3 separate regions of the Homo sapiens genome follow, and all the other regions are linked to region 3. The links come from fine-mapping of genetic effects on gene expression. A gene starts in region 3. Each other region holds a variant in brackets. All regions are shown on one strand. Distances are between the middles of the regions.

Evidence for each region. PIP is the estimated chance that this variant, and not a neighbour inherited with it, causes the effect. A credible set is the group of variants that fine-mapping cannot tell apart.
Region 1: its variant is the best candidate, but not a certain one, in a credible set for the expression of RERE in visceral fat (GTEx, PIP 0.67).
Region 2: its variant is the best candidate, but not a certain one, in a credible set for the expression of RERE in T cells (TOPMed, PIP 0.81).

The regions. Positions count from the first base shown.
Region 1 is chr1:8,382,630-8,393,628 of GRCh38, reverse strand. All of the region lies in intron 12 of RERE (arginine-glutamic acid dipeptide repeats), which reads left to right. Among named protein-coding and RNA genes, the nearest start is that of RERE-AS1, 37 kb to the left of the region's middle. The variant T/C (reference allele first, on the strand shown) is at 5,285.
Region 2 is chr1:8,431,654-8,442,652 of GRCh38, reverse strand. The region is part of intron 11 of RERE (arginine-glutamic acid dipeptide repeats); the gene reads left to right. RERE-AS1 (RERE antisense RNA 1) reads right to left here. Exons shown (of 4, transcript NR_125999.1): 4 at 7,637-8,020. Among named protein-coding and RNA genes, the nearest start is that of RERE-AS1, 13 kb to the right of the region's middle. The variant A/T (reference allele first, on the strand shown) is at 5,406.
Region 3 is chr1:8,814,824-8,819,823 of GRCh38, reverse strand. It overlaps RERE (arginine-glutamic acid dipeptide repeats), which reads left to right and starts at 2,184. Exons shown (of 23, transcript NM_001042681.2): 1 at 2,184-2,664. RefSeq lists silencers at 1,647-1,876, 1,977-2,276, 2,527-2,586 and an enhancer at 1,940-2,234.

The sequences.
Region 1 (10,999 bases), 430 kb after region 3:
GCCTGCGCTTGGGTCCATTTGTTGGGAGATGCCCATTATGCTTTATGAACACTGTGTATTATTCTTAAAACACCTTGAGCTGTTAGAAAACCAACCCCATTTTATGAGTAGAATTAAACAGGACTTGGAAAGGGGGAGTGCTCACCCAGAGCAGTTTAGATTGAGTCAGCAAGAGAAAGGAGGGTCCCCTAAGCCACTGCTCTTTGTCATGCTACGGTCCAATCAGAAAGGCCCAGATGATGTGGATGCTATGGTTCCTGGCTTTGGGCCCCCAGTCACACAGGCCACGCTAAATAGGATACTGCATCTTACTTGGCATTTATTACCCTTGATGGAGGCGGAAATAAGAACTGTTGTATTTGGATCTTCCTAGAGCAGTTGGTGAACTGATGGTGCACTAGACTAAAAAATTCACAGAAACATCTGGAAAGGTAAGATCAAGTACTATAAAGTGTAGGACAGTTTCTGGCAAAGTAGCCTCCTTCTTGGTAGGTTGAGTCTTTGGGAACTTGGGGACGAATCCCTGCAGAAGTCCAATCTGAGCACCTTGCTATTCCTTCTCATGAGTAAGCCCACCACATTCTCCTTCTCCTACTTTCAGGATAAACTTCATCATGGTATTTTGGTGCACATCTTCATTGGGTAGTATCCAACTATATTTTCCACCGTCTCTACATGGTTTAGAATCCTTTCATTTTCTATGAAATGGAAACCCTTGAAAATGCCCCCAGAGAATGCACATCGTGTTCTCTGCAGCACTCTGTATCGCTTGCTTTGGTCAGAGGGCTGCTTCACGAAGAGCTGAAACTTTGCTCGCAAACATCCCTCCAGGGCTGGTAATCTTCCAGACAGGATGGCCCACTTGATAGAAATGTTTTCAGCACAACCTTGCAGCAGATGTTTGCTCTGGTGTGCTGGCGTAACAGATGCTGACCATATCTCTTGAGGGCCTCCACGTCCCTCATAGATGGACTCTACTGCTAGTGTGAGTTATGCGTACTTCAGGGCCATAATTAAAGCTCCTAGATGGAGGGGTGGGGGTAGATACTGGCTGTGTTCAAAGTGGGTGTTTATGGTTGATAGGAAAAGGCAAATGTTTTGTCTTTGCTGAATTTTTAGAAAGCTAGGAATGAAGAATGAGACCCAGGGGAGAGGAAAAAGTTTTGGCTAAGTTTGTTTTTATCTAGATAGATAGATGGATAGACAGAGAGATATATAGATAGAGATATTCATTTTCCAGGTTAGGTAAAAATATAAGCATAAAAGGATTTTTTTAAAAAAGGATTTTGTTAGATTCACCTTTTTTTATTTTTTCAATTGTGTATTTTGTTTATTTCTATTTCTTACAAATGCCCTCTGTGACATTTTTTGGTCTCAAGAATGAGTCATTAACCTGAAACCTCTTGAGCATGTACATGGCTTTTTAGGTTATTTCTTTACAAGGTAAGTCAAGTTGTTATTAGATTTCTTTATACTCATTCATCTTACAGATATTTACTGAAGATCTGTAGAATGCTGAACATTGTGTGAGTTGTGAGAAATGCAGCAATAAACAAAAGACATGTTCCCTGGTTTCTAGAATTTTATTTATTTATTTTTTCTGAGGCAGAGTCTCACTCTGCTGTCCAGGCTGGAGTGCAATAGCGCGATCTTGGCTCACTGCAGCCTCTGCCTCCCAAGTTCAAACGATTCTCATGCCTCATCCTCCCGAGTAGCTGGTATCACAGGCACCTGCTACCATGCCCAGCCAATTTTTATATTATTTAGTAGAGACAGGGTTGGCCAGGCTGGTGTAGGACTCCTGACCTCAGGCGATCCACCTGTCTCGGCCTTCCAAAGTGCTGGAATTACAGGCGTGAGCCACCATGCCCGGCCTCTAGAATTTTAATTCTATGAAGAAGACAGATTAGGTGAATAATTAGATATATAATTATAAATTCTCATAAGTGCAATAATGGAAATCTGCTGAGTATTATGAGAAATCATAACAGGGGGACCTAACTTAAGAAAGGAATATCTGAAGATATTTCAGTTATGACCCCAGAGATGAGGAGGGAAGGATAGAATCAGAAGAGCCCCCCAGGCCAAGGGATCAGCCTGTACAGAGGCCCTGGAGAAGGATAGGCTTGGAACTCAGGGGAAGCTGAAAAAGTAAGTGTAGCTGGAGTGTGTGGAGCAAAAAGGAGAATGGAGAGGGGTGAAGTAACAGTGATGGGGAGAGGTCAGGTCATGGGGACCTTGTGTGCTCCATGGCAGTAATAGGATGTCCTGAGGGCCTCTCAGGTGCCAGGCACTGTTCTCAGTGCTTTACATACATCGGTTCATTGACCACATAGATAGGAGGCTGTGTAACTTACCCAAGTATGTACAACTTGGAAATACCATAGCTGGGATTTACTCTCAGGCAGTCTGGCTTTAAAGTCCATGCTGTTGAACACCTTGCTAGAGTTTTGTGCTGAGAATGTGACAAGTTGATAAGGAATCTCAAACAGGGAAGTAACATCAGTTTTCCTGTTTATTTTGTTATTTTTAAGACACAGTGTGGAATTTGGGTTGTAGTAGGTCAAGGGGAGTGGAAACTGAGCGCCAGGTAGGAGTCAGTGTGATCATGGAAGGTGACCCCGAGATTGGATGAGGGTGGTGGCAGTTGAGGCAGAGAGAAGTAAAGTTTTTTTTGTTTTGTTTTGTTTTTTTGAGATAATATTTTGGAAGGCAGGATTGGTGAGATTTGGTGTTGAATCAGAAGTGGCAAATCAGAGAGGACAGCGTCAGGGAGGACCCCCCGCTGGCACAGAGCCACTGGGTAGGGGAAGTGCTGCTTGTTAAGATGGGGAGGTAAGTTTAGGAGGGAGAAGTGAAGATCAGGAGTTCCCTCTTGTATAGCTGGTTTTGAGATGTATGTTTGTTTTATGGAAGAATGGATTCAAAATGTACATAGTTTTTAACTGGATAAATATGATTTTTTAAAAATAGTTTTAAAATATTTACTAGATAGAAAGGAATTAGTTGGGAGAATTTTGGACTTAGGTTTCTGGGGCTCTGTCTTCACTATTTGTTTGGGTCTCTGAATGAGGCTGATAAATTAGTGCCCCTTCTTCCTTCCCCAAGTTCTGAAGAAAGAGAGATGGGTTCAAAATATTACCTATAGTTATTGATACAGTTCGGACTATGGGACATAGATTAGTGGGCAGGGGAAGAGCCTACCCTGGAGAAGAGGATCAAAAAGAGCAGCTAGCTCCCAAAACTACCAGGGCGCTGAACCATGCATGCCAGGTTTGTTTTTTCCACTCTCCAAATAAGCAGCTTCCCTACCTGGGGTGGGGTGACGACTGGCCAGAAGATGTGCCAAAGGCCTCTCTGTACATGAGTGTAGCTGTCTGGAGTGGGGTCTCTGCTCTTCTGTATGCCGTCGTTCTTGTCAGATGTGTCACAGGATGCCTCTGGGTTCAGATGTGGCGTGGTTGGTTGTGGCACATGGCTCTGCTTCAGGTCACAGGATGACTGTTTCTAGGTCTTGGATTTTAGGTGTCTGGTATTGGTTTTCCTTTTTCTGGTACATGCCCACCTCCTTATGTTAACATCCTCACTGTCTAACTACTCTTGTTCTTAACCCGTGATGTATTTTCACTCCTGCCAGAGAAATTCAGTCTAGTTTGGCTTTGTGTCTTGACAGGTCCACAGAGAGATTGAACAGGATCCTAGGGGAGATACTCTTTGGCCATTGGTGGTTGGAGGTGATGAACTGTTTGCAGAAGTGGATGCGTTTAAGAGACAGGGTCGTCATTGCTGCCCTGATTTCTCCTCACAAATGGAAAACTATTAATGTATACAAAACAACGTGCACTTAGCTGACGGATTGTTTTATTCGCATACTACAGTTGGGGCTTCATTTATAGAGGGAAGTGGTGAGGTTCCCTCCATGCGACCTTCCGTGGTGGCTCCCCGACTTCTCCTCCCAACATGAACCTCAAATTGACTGCAAAGCATGGGTTACCAAAGAGAATTCCACCCCTTCCTCATGGTTTTTTGTTAGCATGTGTGGCGGTAGGGGGGTCTTGCCTAAGACCTTTTTTGTGTTGTTGTAAACAAGAGGCACAGTGACCTTGGCTTTTCGTGCTAGGGTGCGCCTGCTGGGATTCCCTAAAGTAGGGGCATCCACTGAGCCGCACAGCAGCAGAAATCTAGAAGTAAATGGACGGGGTGGCACAGAGGTTTCTGAAATGGCCGTGAATAAAGAACAAGGCGTTGACGTCACACGCCAGTGGATGCTGGGGATGAAGGTTTTAGTACCTCCCGTGTATGTATTTAGTTTTTCAGGTTTTACACAGACATGAGAGTGGGTTGACATGAGTTCACAGACATATTCTTCATACCCCTGAGGCTACTTGTGCTGTAGATTATATTTGGAGACTGTTGACACCTATGGAGTAGTCATTTTCGGCCTTATCTAGAAGCACAGCTCTGCTTATTTTAGACTGATTTTGATAATTTTGAAGATTTCATGTCACCCTTCCCAGCTGACACATGTCTTTCTAAGAAGTGTCATTTCATAAGCACTGTACTTTCCTAAAGATAATACAATACTCAGGAAAACAGTGATCCTAAGAAAGAGAAGGGAGGTCATTTGGGTTTGAAGAGCAGGGACACAGAAGTGTGCTCCCAAGTGGGAGTATCCCTGCAGTGGGTGTGCTGTGGAGCTCGGACAGCACCTTTAGAGTGGGCGGGCAGGTGGCAGTGGGAAAAGTGAGGTCAGGTGGAAGAGAAGTCATTAAACCCCTTACCTAGCTGTCTAATGAGCAAGGAAGCACTTGCATATCATTTCCAAATTATCTGTAGAGAAGAGAAACCTTTCTTTAAATGCAGAATTGGAATATATTTGACAATCTTCTGGTTTAAATTTTTTTTAGTTAAATATTGAAGAGTTACAAAAGAATATAGCATTTGTGTATGGTATAAAAACAGCCACACGGTGAACTGTCGCCACCACGCAGCTTAAGATTGCACAGACTGGGCCGGGCGCGGTGGCTCACGCCTGTAATCCCAGCACTTTGGGAGGCCAAGGCGGGCGGATCATGAGGTCAGGAGATCGAGACCATCCTGGCTAACAAGGTGAAACCCCGTCTCTACTAAAAATACAAAAAATTAGCCGGGCGCGGTGGCGGGCGCCTGTAGTCCCAGCTACTCAGGAGGCTGAGGCAGGAGAATGGCGTGAACCCGGGAAGCGGAGCTTGCAGTGAGCCGAGATTGCGCCACTGCAGTCCGCAGTCCAGCCTGGGCGACAGAG[T/C]GAGACTCCGTCTCAAAAAAAAAAAAAGATTGCACAGACTGTTTCCTCTCCGGTGCAATCCCCTGTCCTTTCCACGCAAAGATAACCACTAGACTGGGTATTCTGCTATAACCCCCCTCCTTTTCCTTATGGCTTGCCTCATATATGTGTATTGCTACACAGTATATTAGTTTTGCATGTCTTTGAACTTCCTATGAATGGAGTCATGGAGGAAAAATGTCCTGCACCTTGCTGTTTTCATTCCCCTTTATCCCGAGAGGCAGCTCTGCATCCTGTGGTACTTCACAGCCTTGTATGAATAGAGCGTCTTTTCCTTCTCTTTTCTGCTGTTGATGGACATTTCAGTTGGTTCCAGTGTTTTGCTGTTGCATACAGTTCTGCTGTAAACTTTCTTGCACACATCAACTGGCACACATGCACACGAATTCTTTAGGGTATAGTTAAGACAATTTTTGAGTTACAGGTATGCGTATCTGCTATTTTACCAAGAAAAGCAGATTGTTGTTTTTCCAGCTGTATGTAAGAATTCCAGTAACTTCACATCCTAGCCAACACTTGATAGAATCAGACCTTAAAATGCTTACCAACATTATAAACTTGAAATGTCTGAGTGATTTTAATTTGTATTTCCCTGGTTTCCAGTCATATTGAGCATCCTTTAATGAGTTTATTGGCTATTTGTGTTTCCTCTTTATGAAGGGCCTATATAAATCTTTTGCTTACTTTTCAATTTGATTGTCTTTTTCTAGATTTGTAAGAGTTCTAGATACTCATCTTAAATAATGTGTGTTGCAAATACCTTCTGGCTTGTGGCTTATCTTTTCACACTTTTTATGATTGGTTAAAGATTAATATGTTGTTAATTTTAACGATTTTATCCTCTCTCCTTAAATGTATCAGCCTTTATACTTTGAGCTTTTATTTGTTAGAAATCTCTCTTGGTCATTTAGGCAGTCTCCTATACTTACTGTTTTCTAAAAGTTTTATAATTTTGCTTTTCGTATTTAAGTTCTTAGTCCGTGGGTTTGGTGATTGTGTAGCATAAAGAAAGAGACCAGATTTACTTGTTTCTGTAATACATCACCAGGTGTCCCAGTGTCATCTCTGGAGAAGTCCAGCCTTTTCTCCACTGATTTGTGTTGCCAGCTATGTCAAAGTGAAATTTCCATAAGAGTGTGAATCTGTTTCTAAGCTGTTTTGTTCTGTTGGTCTCTCTGTCTATTCCAGTGCTTCACTGTCTAGCTTTAGGATAATTGTTGATAGTTGACTTAGCAGGTCCCCTACCTTTTTCTTGTTTTTCAAGAGTGTCTTGATTAGTGGCACTTTATTCTTCTTTAAAATTTTTAAAATCAGCTTGTCTTGTTCCACAAACTAACCAGCTGGGATTTTGAATGAGATAGTGTTGAATCCATTTGAGTACGTTCCCTTTATCCGTCTTTTTTCTATTTGTGAAGTCCTTTCAAGTCATATTTTTATCCTCTTTCCTTTCCTCACACTACTTCTGCACCCAAAGTTGCAGCTTTTCCCCTGAGAGAATATATAGTAGATTTCAAAACCTTTGTCTTCTGTGTTAACTCTTTGAGGTAAACTTTACTTGAAAATCCAACACAAAGAATTTGGGCATTTGAGGAGTTTGTATTTCCCTGGTTACTAATCATATTGGGCATCCTATAATGAGTTTATTGGCTGTTTGTGTTTCTTTTTCATGAAGGGCCTGTGTAAGTCTTTTGCTTATTTTTCAATGGATTGTCCTTTTCTTTTTCATTTGTAAGAGTTCTAGATATTCATCTTAAATAATGTATGTTCAGTTCACTGCCTTCAGAAAGGAAGCTCTCTGGCTGTTTGGGATTCTGTCTTGGCTGGGTTTCAGAGCTCAGGCCCAGGGAGTGGAAACCCTTATTTGTGTGGCTTTACTGTCTTTATGAGACAGGGCCACACAAGCTCATAGGATCTCAGGAATGTTCTCATTATTGATAATGCCCAATGTGGGAAGAATCTCTTGGCTTGGGATGAGAGGGGTTCCTAAGAAGTTCTCTTGGCTCTATTTTATTCTTATGATTTATATAGGAGCAATGGTAATTTTTTAATTTTTTTATTTTTGGTCTCTCTGATTCTAAAGAAAAATTTGGAGGAGAGAATAGTTAACTGTAGTCCTACAAGTTTTCTTAAATATCTTGATATTTTGAACAGTTGGGATATAAGTATTCATGAAATTTATAAAAATTTTTGTCTTCACCTACATGGAAGCTTAGAAACTACTGCTCCTTTGTGGTTCTTTTGACTGCTGTGAACCAAGAAAAAAAAAAAAAAAAAAAAAAAAAATATATATATATATATATATATATATATATTTTTTTTTTTTTTTTTTTTTTTTTTAAGACGGAGTCTTGCTGTGTCACCCAGGGTGGAGTGCAGTGGTGCGATCTCCACTCACTGCAAGCTCCACCTCCCGGGTTCACGCCATTCTCCTGCCTCAGTCTCCCGAGTGGCTGGGACTACAGGCGCCCGCCACCACGTCCAGCTAATTTTTTTTTTTTTGTATTTTTAGTAGAGATGGGGTTTCACCATGTTAGCCAGGATAGTCTCGATCTCCTGACCTAGTGATCCATCCGCCAAAGTGGTGTTTTCTTGTTTGTTTGTTTGTTTGTTTGGTAGAAGGCTTCCCTTCAAGAAATAAAAGCTCTCCGGGTAGCTGGTCAGGCGTTCTGAGGCCACAGTTGGTTGTGTTTTGTTACATTGTTTTGTTTGGTCACCAGGAGCTGGAAGTACATCATTATCTGATACTCTTCAGGGTCCTTTTGGCATCTGGGTAATTCCTGTATTTCCTTTGTGTTAATGTAAGGCAGGATTTAAAACTCCGTGGTAGCCTGCCCCTGCTACCATTCAGTTTTTTGCAGTTGCATCCAGGGTCTCCCTTGGATCAGTTGTGATTTCTGCTTAAGGCACAGAGTCAACTTTCCCTGAGGCCTCTTGAGAGTTCGGAACCCTCTAGCTGCACAAAGCACAAACGGGCAGTCTGAAACTCTTGAGGAAGGAAGCATGGGGCTGTCAGTAGAAGTTAATAATCAAGTTATTTGTTACACTGTGATGGGTGTTGATATTATTAATTCAATTGCCCATTTATATGTGAAACTCATTTTGATTTTAGACAGTGAACATGTTAAATTCTAAGATACAATTAGAATAATTCAAGAGATGTATTTTCCTCGGTGCTTCCCATAAAGAACAGCATAGACCCAAGGCCATGCTTGACTCAGTCTTGCTAGGAATTCCAAGGAAGGAAGATGGAGGACACAGGACCTGTGGCTGGCAGAAATCGCCCTGCAGAGCTGCTTTTAGATGGGCCCAGAAGGAAGGTGCAAGCACGAGAGACTTGTTAGGTGCTGCCTTGAGTTCAATTTTAGATTGTCCTTGAAGTCAATGTGGTTGTTGCATCGGCTGAGAGCTGTGCCCATGACTGGCATGTTGATGGCCAGCTGTTGCCCTCTGCCACTCAGGAACGCTGGTCACATGCCACTGCCATTCCTGCCCACAGCAGGAGACAGAAAGTTTAGCTGGGAGTGAAAAACAAGTAGCCCAACCTCTTTATTAGTAGCCTTCTGGAACAGATGAGTAAGAGTGTACAGAACTGTTAATTGTCTGTAACTAGAGGGAGCAGAGAAAATGCCTTCAAAGCATCTGGTTGTGATGTCACAGCCTTCTGATCCAGATCATATGTGACAAGACTTTTTAAGTGATATTCATCAGTTCAGATATTCATCACTCCTATCTGGAGTTAGCATACAACCGCTCACCTTTGCTGTTACCTTAAGCAGATCTCATTTACCTCTTTATTTGCTGCTGTATGAGAGCACTGTTTAAATGATTGCTTGAGTTCCCAGGAGAGGATCCCTGCTCTTCTTATTAATGCCCCTTTAAGATACAGGTGTTTTAGTACCTCATGGCATCCAGAGAAGCATGTTCCTTTTCTGAGCACGTCAGCACATCTCTTTACCCCTACAGAGGGGACAGATTACAGAACTGACATTGTATCCCACAAGAAAAAACTAGGGCAGCAGGAACAGGATGCGCATGACTCAGGGAGAGACTGGACCTCCGTGCATCCCAGCTTACATGTTCCCAGTCACACAGCCTAGAGGGGTAGAGGGACAGCCACGATGTGGAATAAACAGTAAGACCCCGACCTGAGGAAGCAGTGGACCCAAGGAGGCTTTGGGGTGAGGCGGTTGATTGTACAACCTGTTCCCTATGCTCTTCTCAGCATCAGAAACACAGATTCTTTCAAGCTTAATTCTAAAGAGTCTTTAGACCTTTCTACTACGAGAGTTTGTAATCTAAGCCACTAATTTTCATTCTGGAGTTTGTGACACTCTAGTGAGCCCCACATTATCATAAGTGAATATTTTTAAAATTCGGCAATAGAATTCATTGTAGTTTGGCATACATTTTTATTTTATTTTATTTTATTTTATTTTATTTATTTTTTGAGACAGAGTCTCACTTTGTCACCCAGGCTGGAGTGCAGTGGCGCAATCTCAGCTCACTGCAACCTTCACCTCCCGGGCTCAAGCGATTCTCCTGCCTCAGCCTCCTAAGTAGCTGGGAGTACAGGTGCGTGCCACCACACCCGGCTAATTTTTGTATTTTTAGTAGAGATAAAGTTTCACCGTGTTGGTCAGGCTGGTCTCAAACTCCTGACCTCGTGATCCACCCACCTCAGCCTCCCAAAGTGCTGGGATTACAGGTATGAGCCACCGCACCTGGCCCTTGGGCATAAATTGTAACATAAGTGTATGTTCTTCGACACATTTAAGAGTGGAGTGATGGTGTCATAAAATTAAATAATGGGATGTTCTAAGTCCCTTAAGCTGGACCTTTCCAATCTGTGCATCAAAGCTAATTCTGCATTAAAGTGCAAGGACGGCTCACAAACCCCATAGTTGCCTGATATAGATTGGCAGGTGCATTCTCTTGGTTTCGTTTTTATTCCTGCTGAAATGTTTAATGATCTTGTGTGGCGTCATTCTGTTGCCGATTGTGTAAGAGAGAAGCTGGACCTGGGTGGAGACAGGCTTCTTAGGTGGCCTCAGTGGGCTGTTGGGCATTTATGGTTCTGCTGGTTGCAGCTGAGATCTTCAGACAGAATACTCTTCTCCTTGACCAGCGCTTATCTTTCAGATTGTGAACTAGGCCCAGACACCATTACCATTCACCATCTCTAACATTCTCTTATTCTTTGACTACATAAGGCACTGTCGTTCTAGGGGAAACATGATAGAGGAAGGAAGTTGGTTGCAGAAACCATTCTTTGAAAGACTTTTTTTTTTTTTTTAACTTAGTCAATTAAAATAGTCCTTTAAGGTGAACTTAGTTCTGAGTTTCTGGTCCTTTTCCCAGATGGAAAAGGATTTTCAAGAAAAAATCCTGTCACTTACTGAGCATGTGTGCCGGCTCCTTTTTGGCACTTCCATCCTCACCACAACCCTATAAAGGAGGGAGCTCGTGGCGAGGCAGCCCAGGTTTCTAGATAAGGAGAGTCTCGAGGAGGTTCCTTAACCTTCCTGTGGTGGTTTTTCTCCATTTTTAAAATGAAGAAACAGAGGCCAAGAGAGGTTAGGGAATTTGCTCAAGGTCGTGCAGCCAGTGGCAGCTGTTCTCACTCGGAGTTCTGAGAGAGGTAAGCCTCAGAAGCCGGGCATCCATTGTGTGTAACGT
Region 2 (10,999 bases), 380 kb after region 3:
GCACCAATTTTCCGAATTAGGCCATTCTTGCATTGCTATAAAGAAACACCAGAGATTGGGTGATTTATAAAGAAAAGAGGTTTAATTGGCCCACAATTCTGCAGGCTGTACAAGCACGGTGCTGGCGTCTGTGTGGCTTCTGGGGAGGCCTCAGGGAGCTTTTACTTATGGTAGAAAACGAAGTAGGAGCAGGCACATCACATGATGAAAGGAGGAGCAAGAACTATCATCTATTTTTAAAATAAGCTTTTTTTTTTTTTTTTTTTAAGATGGAGTCTTGCTCTGTCACTTGGGCTGGACTGCAGTGGCGGCACCATCTTGGTCCACTGTGCAACGTCTGCTTCCCAGGTTCCAGCAATTCTGCTTCAGCCTCCTGAGTAGCTGGGATTACAGGCGTGCGCCACTATGCCTGGCTAATTTTTGTATGTTTAGTAGAGACAGGATTTCGCCATGGTGGCCAGGCTGGTCTTGAACTCCTGACCTCAGGTAATCTGCCCACCTAAGCCTCCCAAAGTGATGGGATTACAGGTGTGAGCCACCATGCCCGACAAGTTCATTTTTTAAAAGCAGTCCAATGTTGCATCTTATCCTTTTCCCCCTTTAATTTTTATTTCCATTCTACTTCCCCAGGGACTTTATACTAAGATGATACATTTTATGTTTGAAAGTCCAGTGTCCGATTGACCTTTAGTACTTCCCTGCAACAAAAAGTGTGTGTATTGAAATCGGGCATATGGTTATTTCCTTTAATAATAAAGCTCTTAAGTATAGAAGAAATGTTTTTTCAAATTATAATTATTAGAGCACAGTTGATGAAAACAACGAAATAATGTAAATGTTGATATAATTTTCATTTTTGCTTAACATTTATTGGAAATAAATTGTATGGTTTTTTTAAACACGTAAGTGCCCAGAAACCTTGTTTATGTGAGTAAGTAGATGGGAATGATAGTTTTGTTACAGTGTCACTCAGTTATTTGAATTCTTTCCATAATAATGCCAAAAGTATAATTTGTCGTCAGATATGACTTTCCGCAATCTATCAGATGACACTTCCACTAGGACCTCCTTGTGTTTTGTTGAAAGCAGAGAATCAGAAAATGTCTGACTTGTGGAGTCTTTCTCATCCTGACCTCAGAGCTAGGCACTGTGTCAGCACCAGTGTCAATGTTTTAAATTGTCCCCTTGTTCAGTGCCCCTGGGGCAGTGCTGCCTGGTAGCCTTCCAGATGGGAGCGGGGGAGAGGAGGCTGCCTTTGTGAAGTGAGAGGGGGGCAGTGGTGGGGATAGAAGAAGAGAGGCTGCATCCCCTCACAGGAGCGTGTGCCTTCTCAGGCTGATGGATTGTTGGAAAGAGAACATAGGAAAAAAATGTCTTTTGTGTCCATACATCCCATTTTGCGGACTATGGTCTTACACATCTTATATGCCAGGCCCACTTCTGGGCACTGGGAGAGTCAAGGAAACCCACGCCCCCATAGGAGCTGGGCTAGTGGTGTGACGAGGGCTAGCTTAGGAGCTTGGGGCAGGAAACCGGGCTGCATATTGCACTGGAAATTGAATGATGAAAAACTTGCTGTCCTTGCCCTCCAAGGGTTTATCATCTGAGGTCACATAATAAAGCAAAACAGCCCCCCCACCCCCCCGAAAAACAAAAAACCTGCATGAGCTAAAGAAAACCCTCTGCTAGCTCTTGTTATTTAGTGTGTTCATAGAGCAGTTATATTACTCTGGCATACTTTCTATTTTTTTTTTTTGAGATGGAGTCTCCCTCTGTCACCGAGGCTGGAGTGCAGTGGCATGGTCTTGGTTCACTGCAACTTCCGCCTCCTGGGTTCAAGCGATTCTCCTGCCTCAGCCTCCCCAAGTAGGTGGGACTACAGGCATGTACCACCATGCCCAGCTAATTTTTTTTTTTTTTTGTATTTTTAGTAGAGACGAGGTTTCACCATGTTGGCCAGGCTAGTCTCAAACTCGACGTTAGGTGATCCGCCAGCCTCGGCCTCCCAAAGTGCTGGGATTACAGACAGGAGCCACCGTGCCCAGCCTTTTTTTTTTTTTTTTTAGGTGGAGTCTCGCTCTGTCGCCAGGCTGGAGTTCAGTGGCATGATCTCGGCTTACTGCGACCTCTGACTCCCTGGTTCAAGTGATTCTCCTGCCTCAGCCTCCTGAGTAGCTGGGATTACAGGCATGCGCCACCACGCCCAGCTAATTGTTTGTATTTTTAGTAGAGACAGGGTTTCACCATATTGGCCAGGATGGTCTCGATCTCCTAACCTCATGTCCGCCTGCCTCGGCCTCCCAAAGTGCTAGGATTACAGGCATGAGCCGTGCCTGGCCATAAACCATTTTTAGAAGGAGTCAGGCTTTACCAGACTGCCAAAGGGTCCATGGCACAGAAGAGATAAAGAACTGTGCACTCAGTGCTGGCCCCTTCCACATACTACAAATAGTTTCCAGAGTCCAAGATGACAGTTTCAATACAGTGGTTTCATGGAAGGATGCTGCATAGAGTTGGTGTTGGGCACAATGTTACTGGCTTGGTACATGCACCATAGATATTTTGTTTTTGTTTGTTTGAGAGGGAGTTTCACTCTTGTTGCCCAGGCTGGAGTGTAATGGCGCGATCTCAGCTCACTGCAACCTCTGCCTCCCGGGTTGAAGCAATTCTCCTGCCTCAGCCTCCCCAGTAGCTGGGATTACAGGCGTTTGCCACCATGCCCAGCTAATTTTTTGTATTTTTAGTGTAGACGGGGTTTCACTGTGTTGGCCAGGCTGGTCTCAAACTTTTGACCTCAGGTGATCCACCCACCTCGGCCTCCCAAAGTGCTGGGATTACAGGCGTGAGCCACTGTGCCCAGCTCACACCATAGGTATTTTAAATGTTGCATTAGACTCTCAGACCTGTTATTGTCCTGCATTATCCTAAGGATGCTACTATTTCCTGTAATCCCATTTACAGTCAAGTATCAGGGAATCCACCTGGAACCGCCAGGGGGTGTGGTTCCCAAGGGTCATTGACCTTTCTTGCTCCTCCTTTCCATCTGAGGGAGAAAACTTTCATTGCCTCCAGATTGTGTTTCAAAACAATGGAGAATGTTCTTGGTTTTATTACTAAGTAGTCTTGACCTCTAGCTTCGTAGTTATTGATTGGTTTGTTTCTTTAACATCTTGACATTCATTATTTTCTTCCTGGTGTTTTCTTAGGCAGTTGATTCCTCCACACACCAGCTCTCCTGACTTGAAGCTACGGAGATGCATTTAGATCAGGTTTCTTGCATGCTGCTGGCTTTATCTCATTTACAGTATCGCATTTCTGTTGCCATACACTGTAGGATCTGGGCCTCCCCACAGCTTTAGAACAATTAGTAATTGAGCAGGAAGTGTGTTTTTATTACAGTGGCCTTTTGATTTTGATTTTACAATCATGTAGTGTTTAGCAGAGAGCAGAGGTGGGCAAGTGGCTCTCTCAAACACATTTTTGACAGAGAGAAGTCTGTTGTTTCAGCCACTTGGCTATCTGTCAGCGGTTCTCAGACTTCCCCCTTGTGTGGGTTGCCTGGCAACCTGGGGCTGGAGCAATCAAACCGTGGCCAGCGCTTCTCCAGCCCAGACTGGGAGACGATTTACTGGTGGAACTGTAAGTACAGTAAACCCAAGCCTCAGAAATGGACCTTTTTTCTTTTTTAAACCAAGAGTTTATAGAAACCATATCAAGGCAAAAAGAGAGAGAGAGGGAGAATATCAATTAGAGAGTTTTGTTGTAAACATTTTAAATAATAAAATTAGGGCCTGTAATGAGCTTATCATCTATCCAGATATGTATAAGTTAATATTTTTACTTAGTTGGATTATTACCTTTTTTTTTCTTTAACTGTTTTACTGGAACATTCAACATTTTAAAAGTTAGTACTTTTAAACGCTACATTTGAGTACTTGTGATGCTGTCTTTCCACGAAAACCTCAGGCGCAGAGAGTGTTCATGGCTAGCCGGAAGTAAACTGTGAGGCCTTGCTAGAATCAGGCCTTTGAATCAGAGCCCAGCTCTCCTGATGCCTGTGTTCCTGGTTTACTGTAGTGAGCACAAAATGCTGATTGCTCTTTTCCCTATTTTTCAAAATTAGCTGAAAAATCCAGAGACCCATCTATATGGGAAATCCCTATACCTTCTGTTCCGTTTTGCTGTGAACCTGAAATTGCTCTAACAAATAAAGTTTATGAAAACATTTTGAAAATGCAAAGATTCTGCCTTACTATATGCTGTTGTAACAGATGTTTTAGTAGGTCTCCCTCTTCGTATGTATATACATCTTTTTAACTGAAAATTATCCTATATTGATTTTTTTCCTACAGGAGTGAGATCTGGCTGGGCACAGTGGCTCATGCCATAATCCCAACTCTTTGGGAGGCTGAGGCAGCAGGATTGCTTGAAATCAAGAGTTCAAGACCAAGCCTGGGCAACATAGTGAGAACCCCGTCTCTACAAAAAAATATTTTTAAAATTAGCTGGGCATGGTAACTGACACATACCTGTAGTCTGACCTACTTGGGAGGCCGAGCCAGGAGGATCATTTGAGCCCGGAAGCTCCACGTTACAGTGAACTGTGATCATACCACTGTAGCCTAGGTGGCAGAGCAAGACCCTGTCTCTAAAAATAATAATAAATAATAATAAAAGTGAAATCTAACAGCACTTGTTGAGGTTTCTCCTTCATAGCATCTCAAATATCACAAACGAGGATGAAAAGGACTCTATTTCGGGGGACATACTGCATGGGGGTGGGGGGAGCAGAAGTCTCAGCCTGGGTTAGCAGTAATCTGAGCATTTCTTTTTGTAAAATTTTAGAGAAATACTTTGGAACTCAAACTCCCCTCTGCATGCAGCCCATTGTATCCAGCTGTGTATGTAAATGAGCTATTAGTATGTTTGTATTCCTTATAAATATACAGATCTAATCTGTTTGTGTGTGTAATTTACACACAGCTGTGTTCATGCTCCCGTATTACCAATATTGTCAGCAAGAGTGAGGTATCATGGGAGCGCTATTGTTCCAAACAAAAGCCAGCAGCGTAGCCTTGTGGTGGGGCCCATTACCAGCCCCTGATCTTGGGACCCTCCCTTGGGGGACTCTCTTGAAAGTCACAGCCATTCTGCATGGGGATAGCCATCCTGCATGGGGTAGGCGGGAGACCAGAGTGCCTGTAATAGAAAAAAAAAACAATGATCACCTGTTAGACAGGGATCTGCATTATGACTGAGGTTTGGCTTTTGTCATTGAAATGCTTCCTCCACCCCCACCCTGGACTACATTTCCTAAAGGGGTCATTGATTTTCCTTTCTTCTTTGAGATCATTCTTTAAATGAACCGAGTCAAATGAGGAACCCAGTCCCATGTTGTATTGTCA[A/T]GAAGGGGAAACAAAATCCAGGAGCCCCTCCTGTATCAGGAGCTGACGGAAGGCCCTGGTGCTGGTCGAGGTCTTCAGTTTCCCTTGTTTGGGAAGTGGGGCAGATCTTAAGAACTTTGGCATTTGGTCGAATTCTTCTAGAAGACAAGTTTTATGTAATTTGAAATAACGGCCCTATGTGGTTTTATTTTAGGAATTTATGATATCGTTGCCCATGATTCTAACAGTATAGTTATTTTGCCTCCCTAATAGAAAACTTGGAGTGCTTTGGATGTTTCAGTATTTTACAAAAAAAGAAGTTAGGATTATTCTAGACCTGTGCTTTCCAATGTGGTAACCACTGGTCTCTTGTGGCTGTTGAGCATCTGCAATGTGCTGGCCCAAGTGTAGATGCACGGTCAGTGTAAAATACACACTGATTTCAAAGACTGAGCAGGAAGAAAAAGAATGTAAAATATTTCATTACTAACTTTTATATTGATTACATGTTGAAATGATAATATTTTTGATCTTTTTAGTTAAATAAAACATTTAAATTAATTTTACCTGTTTCTTTTTAAAGTATGGTTACTAGAAGAGTAAAACTTACATTTTTGGCTTATATTTCTATCGGGCAACCACTGGTCTAGATTCCTTTAATTACAGTTTTTGCAAAATCCTCTCACGGAGGATTTCTACTTTTTTGTTCCCTTGTAACTTCTAGACAATCCACATTTCTTTTTTTAGCTTATTTCTCTTTCCTCCTGTGTTGAGATCTACTTTGCCAAGGAAAGGTGAACATTTTAATGACATAACTTAGGAGCCACTTTACAGGGGCATTTATGTAGCGACTGTAGGGTGATATTGTAGGGAGAGAAGGAGCCTCCCATGCCCATTTGGATTCTGTTATGAGTGTTGGGTTATTTTATTTATTTTTTATTTATTTATTTGAGATTGAGTCTCGCTCTGTCGCCCAGGTTGGAGTGCAGTGGCACAATCTCAGCTCATTGCAACCTCTGTCTCCCGGGTTCAAGCAATTCTCCTGCCTCAGCCTCCCAAGGAGCTGAGATCACAGGCACACGCCACCACGCCTGGCTAATTTTTGTATTTTTAGTAGAGTTGGGGTTTCACCATGTTGACCAGGCTGGTCTCAAACTCCTGACCTCGTGATCTGCCTGCCTCAGCCTCCCAAAGTGCTGGGATTACAGGCATGAGCCAGTGCACCTGGCCGTGTTGGGTTATTTTTAATTTGGGCGTAGCTGTGTGGCCATAATTGGCAAGAGGCATTTGGCTGGCACAATCTCTACATCTGTTAATGCTGCTGCTTAACTAGCCAGTTCTCATTTGACTTGAAAGTGCATTGATGCATGCTTTCTGATATTCACCCAGTGGCAGTACTTTTTGTTGGGCCTGCAATAATGAAAGGACTTCAGTGTACTCAGTGTAATTATCTAGACCCAGAGGGGCACTGACAGAGATGTATATATAGGATAGCTCAATGGGCTGTGCTAGTGGGTGCAGTTGCTGTTTAAACCACAACATGAGGTCATTTTCCCATTGGGCACATGGTCTTTGAATGAAAAATGGAGTAACTTTTATTTGATATTTGAGACCTCCTGGGAAGGGTTTTTGGCATGCAGGTGTGTTGACAAAGGAAATCACTGGCTCTACTCTGGATGCTGAGCTGGCATCACGGAGGGGATGGTGTAGTTCCTCTAGTGGGTTTGAACGAAGAACATCTAATGGTTTTGTCAGTAGTAGTTAGAGAGTTAGAAACTTAACAGTGCAGTGAATATATATTAAGAGACGTTGAGTCAAACTGGAGAACAGGTGATGAGAGGTCAAATAGCCTTGGAGGAACACTAAGCCCAATCATCTCCAGATACATTCTTGTACTGAACCAGTGGTTGTCAAGCACCTGCTATATGTTGTCAAGTGCTGTTCTAGGTGCTGGGGATATAATAGTGAACAAAACAAAGGCCCTTTCCTCATATATTCAGTAACGTAGCCTATATCGTGTTATCTAATCATATCACATATGGTGATAAGAGCTAGGCCTTAAAATGAAGGCAGAGTAAGGTTATAGAGAGGCATGCAAATTGGGGAAGCATCATTGGAAGATTGCTTATTTGTTTGCTTAAATTAATAGTGACTAACAGGTTAAAGTTTTTAGTGGTTTTAGTAATGAATCTTGTATTAGTTGCCTATCGCTATGTAACACGTTACCCCTGATAATAAAAATTAGCCCAATGTAAAGCAATGATGATCATTTATTATCTTTCACAGTTTCTGTGGGACCAGAATTTAGGAATGGCTCCACCGTGCAGGTCTGGCTTAGGCTTTCACGAGGTTGCAGTCAAGTGATAGGAGGTATTGGAATCATCTTGAAGGTTTCTTCACTTATGAGTCTGGGCTAGGAAGACTCAAATGGCTGGGGACTAGAATAGCTAGGGTTTCTGTAGCACCTCTCCATCCCTGATGGTCTCTCCAGCGTGGTGACTTTAGGCAAGCCGGACTGTTTAATCTGGCAGCTCAGGGCTTCAAAGACACGTGTCCAGAGAGGGAGAGCCCAGCAGAAGCTGTGTTGCTTTGTATGATGTAGTCTTAGAAGTCACCTGGTATCATTCTGTCACATTCTGTTGGTCAAGACAGTTACAAAGGTCTACCCAGGCTCAGGAGGAGAGAACAGAGAGACCCACCTGTCAATGAAGGAGTGTCATTATCACATTGTTAGAGCATGTGGGATGGAATCTGTATTGGAGTGGCCACCTCTAGAAAATATAGTTTGTCACAAATGTAAAGATTTTGTGGGTATGTGTGGTTTGATTTGTTGGTTTAATTTCAGTTAAATGATTTATGGTCCTCATCAGTAATATGAGGGTTTCAACCAGCGTAGTTCTCTAAAGCTTCTTTCTAGCTTTCTCATTCTCTGATTCCACCGATAGCGCAGGTGTGGCAGGGTGTGTTGAGCTGGCAGCTGCTCAGCTTCTGTAGACATTTCTGAGCATATCATCAGAAGAGTCAGCTGGGACATTGAGGGGCTGTTGGACTCTTGCTGGCCTCACACACTGAAAGACCTGGCGCTTCAGTCACCCTTTGTGTTATGTTTCTATAGCTAATCTTAACTGGGGGTTGCTAGTGGTGGGGTGATGGAATAAAACAATGATTTAAACCAGGAGCTGTCCATTATCATGATACTCATGAACTGAGGAGGGTAGAACAGCCAGGCAGGATTATATTAGATCTACCTTCCCAAGTGCTCCTTCTCATTCTCTTTGGCCTTTGGAAGATTAGGAAAAAGAGGAAAAGAAAGGAAACAGAAAAGAGAACTCTTTGGTATTACTCCTCTGTGTCAGCTAAACAGCTGCCATATTTGACCCTAGAGAGGACTTCTTTTAGAAATGAATGGGGCCGGGCGCGGTGGCTCACGCCTGTAATCCCAGCACTTTGGGAGGCCGAGGCGGGTGGATCATGAGGTCAGGAGATCGAGACCATCCTGGCTAACAAGGTGAAACCCCGTCTCTACTAAAAATACAAAAAATTAGCCGGGCGCGGTGGCGGGCGCCTGTAGTCCCAGCTACTCGGGAGGCTGAGGCAGGAGAATGGCGTGAACCCGGGAAGCGGAGCTTGCAGTGAGCCGAGATTGCGCCACTGCAGTCCGCAGTCCGACCTGGGCGACAGAGCGAGACTCCGTCTCAAAAAAAAAAAAAAAAAAGAAATGAATGGACTGTTACTCAGAGGGCTTGGATTTGGGATCCTGTTGTAATTACCATAGAATCTTCTGGGACTAGCCTGGGAAACAGGTCTTTTTTGTGTGTGCTGAAACTAGGATTTATTTCAAAGACACATGTCCAGAGAGGGAGAACCAAGTGGAAGTGGTGTTATTAGATATTAAAGGTATTTAAGACAGTTGACAAAACATAGCATGCAAGACAAGATGTCTTTTTGGAAATAGTTGAGTCCTCCTCTTGTCTCTTTGTAGGACCAAGAGGCTACCCTGCTTTACGACTGTTCCATTGTTAAGAGAACCAGGGACATAGAAATTGAGGCTTTGAAGATGGTGGAGGCCTAGACACCCATCTTGCACCCAGGAACACAGTAGTCCTGAGATAGGGCTAGTTACCAGTACGGGGGATGTAGTTATTTAGTTACTGAACCATGCCAGGTTGTTTGTGGGAAAATTTTCCTCATGGATATCCAGCATACAGCATATAATCTCCGACATGTGCTTTTATTTCAAGAGTTTAAGTTTGGGTATATGTATATGTATATGTGTATATATATGTAAACTTTCCTTTAAAGTATCTTAAGAAGTACCTTAAGAAGTATCACACCCTTTATTCCTCTGAGATGAATAGATATAAAACAGTGTTTTCTGCACTGAGAGTCCAAGTAATCAATCCCATTTTAAAATATGATTTACTTCTCCATTCTTCTTGGAAAAAAAGAAACAAATCTAACATTGATTAGAAATTTTGTTTCCATCCTACCAAACATGTATTATGTTTCAGGGAGAACTCTAGGACCAAAAACAATACCCATGCAGCCACCCAACAGTTATCATATTGCTTGGTTACAGTTTGCCAGGCACTCTGAAGATTACACAAGACATGAAATACTCACCTCTTGCTGGAAAGGAATCCACAATTTGGTGGAAGATCTATAGACCTTTTAATGGCAGAAGTGCTTATTAATTCTAGTCATAAACAGGAATTGTTGTTTTTCAGAGAAGGGAGAGAGAGCAGAGCGGACTCTGTGTAGGGATAGAGTTGAAACTGGAACATGCTTCGCACAGTGCCTCGTGCTGTGCTCCTTGTTCACTCAGTGCCTCGTGCTGTGCTCCTTGTTCACTCAGTGCCTCGTGCTGTGCTCTTTGCACAGTGTGTTCACTAGAATGAGGGCTCAATGAATGTTAGTTGAGTTGATGTGTTTGAATAAGCAGAAGTGAAGAGGGGACATTCTAGATTGGGTAAGAGAGAAAGGCATTGGTAAAAACCCAGGGAAAGGAATCAGGATGGGGTACTGCAGTAACTAACTTCACTACATGGTGGTGTAGGTGATTGGGAACCCAATTGTGGAGGCTGTTAACTAACTAGCAGACCGATAGTTTGGACGTACTAGGAATTGTCACAGGTCTTCAAATAAGAGAACACATTAATATACAGAATGCCCAGAACTGGAATGTTGGGGGGAGGGGTGTGGAGACACACTGAGGCCAGGGAGGAGACCAGTGCAGTCACTGGCATGACGTGGCCCTGTAGTTGGCAGAGCCCTTGCAAAAACCGAGGAGCATGCCGAACAGGAAACTCCATGAAGTGAAGAATGAATCTAGAGGGCATGGTGACTGATGGAAGGAGTGGGAATGGACAGAGAGCACGCCAGGCACTTCTTCTAGAACTCTGCTGCAGCTGACAGAAATAGGGCCACAGGGAGCTAAGAGAGGGCAAGCTGGCTTGGGGAGAGAGAAGCGGGGGAGATTTGAGGTGCTAGGCCCATGAGGTTAATTTTAAACTTTATAAAGTGAAAAAAGTTACAGTAAGCTAAGGTTAATTTATTATTGAAGAAAGGAAACATTTTAAATGTTTAGGTTAATTAAGTAAACAGTGTTTATAAGA
Region 3 (5,000 bases):
GCTGAATCTTTATTAGAAATAATGCTCCTGTAAGTTTCGAGACCAGCCTGGGCAACATAGTGAACCTCCATCTCTACTAAAATTACAAAAGTTAGTTGGGTGTGGCGGCACACACCTGTAATTTCAGCTACTCAGGAGGCTGAGGCAGGAGAATCGCTTCAACCGAGGAGGTGGAGGTTGCAGTGAGCTGAGATCGTGCCACTGCACTCCAGCCTGGGCAACAGAGCGAGACTCTGTCTCAAAAAAAAAAAAAAGAAAAAAAAGAAAGAATGCTCCTGTAGATAGAGATTTTGATGGAAAGTGAAGCCATCTAACTGATATACTTTATCCCTCATCATTTCCAAACAGGAAGTCAGATAGTCCTATCCATATCTAGAATGTTGGAAGCAGTTTATTGAATTTATTAGGTTTTAAAATTCAGTTCTCACATTATCAGATATATAAAGAGATATTAACTAGTTTCCCCATTTCATAACTCCAGCAAAGAGGATTTTTCTTGCTGAAAGTTACTCAGAAATGTGATGGCAAGGATCTATGGCTTTTTTTTTTTTTTTTAAGATCTCTTGGGTCATGGTCCAATAGTATCTGTTAGTCCAAATTATTCTTTAAAGAATAATTGAATGTGGGCCGGGTGCGGTGGCTCACGCCTGTAATTCCAGCACTTTGGGAGGCTGAGGCGGGCGGATCACCTGAGGTCAGGAGTTCGAGACCAGCCTGACCAACATGGAGAAACCCCATCTCTACTAAAAATACAAAATTAGCTGGGTGTGGTGGCGCATGCCTGTAATCTCAGCTACTCGGGAAGCTGAGGCAGGAGAATCGCTTGAACTGAGGAGGCGGAGGTGGCGGTGAGCCGAGATCGCGCCATTGCACTCCAGCCTGGGCAACAAGAGTGAAACTCCCTCTCAGAAAAAAAAAAAAAATGAATAATTCAATGTGGAAATTATAATCTGAATAGATTTTCCAAGGAGAAAATTATCACTTCTTTTGAAACAGATGAGTGAATTATTTTGTGCTACGTTTTCTACCCCTTATTTTATACGGACCTTAACTCCTTCGGGAAGAGTGTATGGTATAAGGACACCAATAAGCATTTACAGAATATTAACAAACCAACAATAGGTTGATGATTCACCCTGGATTCGTGCCAGGCTCTGTGAAAGAACTCAATAAACATGATGTGCATTTCAAAAACTGCTAATCATAATTGAAATTTCCAAACCCCTCAATCCCATAAATTATATGAACTAGAATATGATCATTTGGCCTGCCCCTACTCCCTTTACAGCATGATAGACCCTGTGATTATCAGGCTTTCGGGAAGTGGGACACAATACTTCATTCTTCAAAGAAAAAGAGGTGATGTTTGGTCTTTTCCTCTTTTTAGATTTTTTTTCACACGTACCTTATAGAGTTGTACACTGCTCTTTCTAAAATCCCTTCTGTACCTGTACAGTCTCTCCTTTATGCCTTCATGACACTTTTTATTCTTTTCAAATAAGCAGTGCGACTTATCACTTTTATTTTTCTTTCTGTAATTCATCTTTTGTCATGTACACTATTTGAAAAATATTACAAGCCGCTCATCAGAATTTCGAAAGAGTCCATATGAGAATGGTTTACACCCACTCTGTAGCCCGCAGCAACATGGATCCGCGTCCTAATGACTGAAAAGGCCAATTAAGACCCGGGTAACAGCAAGATCAACCGGACTTCCCCCCACCCCACCCGGGACCTGCCCGCGCCGCCAGCCCGGCCCAGCCCGGGGGGCGCGGGGGGCGGTACTGGAGCGCGGCGGGCGGCGGAGGAGGGCCGGCCTCGCACTCTCACAAAGACGCGCCCGCGGCGGGAGCCCAGCCCACCGCCTCTGGCCGCCGCCTGCAGCGCGAGCCCTCGAGCCCCGGGCCGCGGCGTTGTCAAGGCTCGGCCTCTCTCCGCCTTCTTCTCTGCTCATTTTATTAAAAAGATTAAAAAAAAAAAAAAAAAAAAAAAAAAAAGGAAAAAGAGATCCCGCCTCCTCCGCCTCCCATTGGCCGGGCCCCCGGCCGCGTCACACCGCGCTGTACCAATGGAGGGGCGCGATACTGCGAGGTGGGCCGGGCCCGAGCGGGGAGTGGGCGGCGGGTCGGTGCAGCAGCTCCGCCGCGGCTCCGCCACCATCGCGGAGGTGCCGCTGTTCCCACAGACGCTCGCGAGCAACCCTCCGCGCTCCGGAGCCTCCTCAGCCTCCCGCACACCCCGAGACGCTCGCCCCGCTGGGCCTCGGTCCCCGCCTCCTCCCCCGTCCTTTTCCCCTCTCTCGCTCCCCACATTGTCTCTGCCTCATTTTCTCTCCTAGTTGAGGATTAAAAAAAAAAAAAAATCACCATCATCCTCAGGGAGCCCCCTCGCCCTCGGAAAACAAAACCAGACATGATCCTGGGCTCCTGCTTCTGAAAGATCTGCCCGACCGAGGAGGAGGGAGCCTAGGTTCAAGTCGCAGGAAAGGTCACGGCAGGGAAGCCCCCTCAGCCCCTCCGCGTCGCCTCCCCGCGGGCCGCCCCTCTCGGCCCTGCGCCCCGCGGCCCCGCAGCCTCCGCGCGGCCTCCCGCCCCATCCCCGCCACTTTCCCCGGAGCTGGGCCGCGAACACCTCACTATTGATGGTGTAGCGCTTTAGGGGAAGGTAAGTGTCCAACTTGCCCGCGCCGGGTCGTGTGCTTTCTTTTTTGGCCCCTCGTCCTGGTGGTCAGAGAGGGTCGGCCGTGAAAGCAGTCACTCGCCCGGGGGGAGGCAGGAAGAAAAGGCTGGGGTCGAAGCCGAAGTCGAGGGGAGTCGGGCGAGGGCAGGGCACTTCTTTGGTCCTGTCCGGGCCAGGTGACCGTTCCTGCGTGCCTTCTGACCCCTGCTCTCTCTTGGCCTCTTATTCATGCTCTTGTTCTACTTGTTTGAGGTTAAACTATTTCATGTGACTACATTATTGGCTGAAACTGGAAGGGAAGGAAGTCAAGGACTGAAACTGTAAATTTCTTGAATGTTTGTGGATTTCGGGGTGCTGGGGGGAGGACTTTATTATTAAAGTATCATTTTCTCATTGGGGGAAGATTTCCTCTTTGTGCTCCCAATCTCTAGTTCTCAGCTGTATGTGATTAGAAAATTATGAAACCCAAAGTCACTTGCAGCAGAATAGAATTCTTACTATCCTGTTTTAGTTCTGCTCTCTGAAGGAGGGTGGCTTCTATTTATTACTAATTTTTAAGATGATGGAAAGATTCGTAGTTTTACATACACGTGTGTATGTGTGTCTGCTAGGAGGGGGGAAAAGTGTTGCAGGCTTCCTTTGAAACTGGTTGCTTGAGAAGTTGTTGAAAGGAAAACAGAATGATTCATTGTTGAATTGTCATTTTCCTCTGTCTCTTTTCCAAGGTTTGCTTACAATTTTTCTGGATTACAGACTTCAAACATTGATTTAAGTAAAATGGGTCCTTGAGAAACTGGGTGCTTTAAATGTTTCAGTATCTGTTGCTTTTTTAAGGTACATTTAGAAAGTAGTTTTGTATGAATCGTGAAATAGCCTTCTTCACAGCGAATTTTTAAACGCAAAAAAAGATAACTAGTAAGAGGGTGAACTTGGTGAATTACAAAATAGACATTTTAATATAGCAGGAATTGATGCATCTAAGATTTGAAACAGTTTTCATAATTGCTTTCCATTTAAAGAGAGACCTTTTTGTCTAGTGTACACTGGTCTTTTTAGTCTCAGTCTGTTGGGGGAGGGGAGAGAAGCTGGATCTGTACAATAATAAAATCATCTTTGGGTTGATATTTTGTTCCATGGATTTGCTTGCTGAGTTAATACTACTGTAAATTATCAACCAGTTTTGATTTTGATGGCCTGGGATGGGTGGAAAGCTGGCTTCCAGCTCTCCCTGTTGTTGTTGAGGTCGAAGGGAAAAGAGGCAGAGGCAGACAGACACACATATACACACACACACACACACATACACACACACACAATACCAAGCTGAGGGCTCATTGTTCTTCCATACACACATTCATTCTCTCTCTCCCATATTTGGGACTAGGTTTGCACAGACAAACACAGCTCTTTTTGGGAGAGAAGAGAGAAGATGGGGGAAGGGAGGGTGCTTTTCTGTTACAGCTTTCTTCCACCCATCTCATGCCTGGCCGTTTTTGCAACCTTGTGAGGCAGAAGAGTGCATTGGAAACTAAAGGACACTCAAAAACATGTTCAGAGACTTCTCTTCTCTCTGCCTCCCTTTATTCCTTTTGCAGCCGTGGTTTCTGCTGCTCTTTCTTTTTTGTATATGTAAAGATAAAATCCCTCTTTATATGTTGTGGCCTTACGTTCAGCTCTCATTGCTTTTGTATTTCTCATTGACCCTGATTTTGTTGGGGACAGTGATTTGTTCACTTGAGTCTTAGTAGTGAATGTGAGCAGAGTCTTTCTAGATAGAAATAGATTTTATTGATTAATATTATAAAGGTTGTATTGAGGTTAATATTTAGCAAGATGATGTTTGCATGTTTTTAGTGGTGTGATGGTTTGATGGTCAGGTTTGCTGGCAATTGAGCTGTCAATGTTGTTTTTGTAAATAAGGGTTATAAGAAAAGATCTGGTTTTCTGTTTAGGGGGCTCCTTTGAATACTGGACAGGGAATAGGCTAGTCCACCTGGGATAAACCCAGCTGTGGCCCAAGGATGGAGGTTGGTGTGAATACATGTGGGTTGCAGAATAGCACCTTCTACTGGTTAATTGTTTGGAAAGATCCAGACGAAGAGGATGGGGGAGGGGATTAATGGCTGAGGCTTAATGATTTTCTTTTAAGCGCAGTTGTTGTGCCTTTCTGCAAATGCCACTTCCCCGAGCTGCTAATACAGATGTCCTTTGACAGGCACGGTTGCATTGAGGCATTATTATGTTACTGGTTGTGCTTCGACATTAATTTGTTCTGTTACCAGAAGTATTTACACTTTGTGACTTCCCAGGACTCCTTTGAA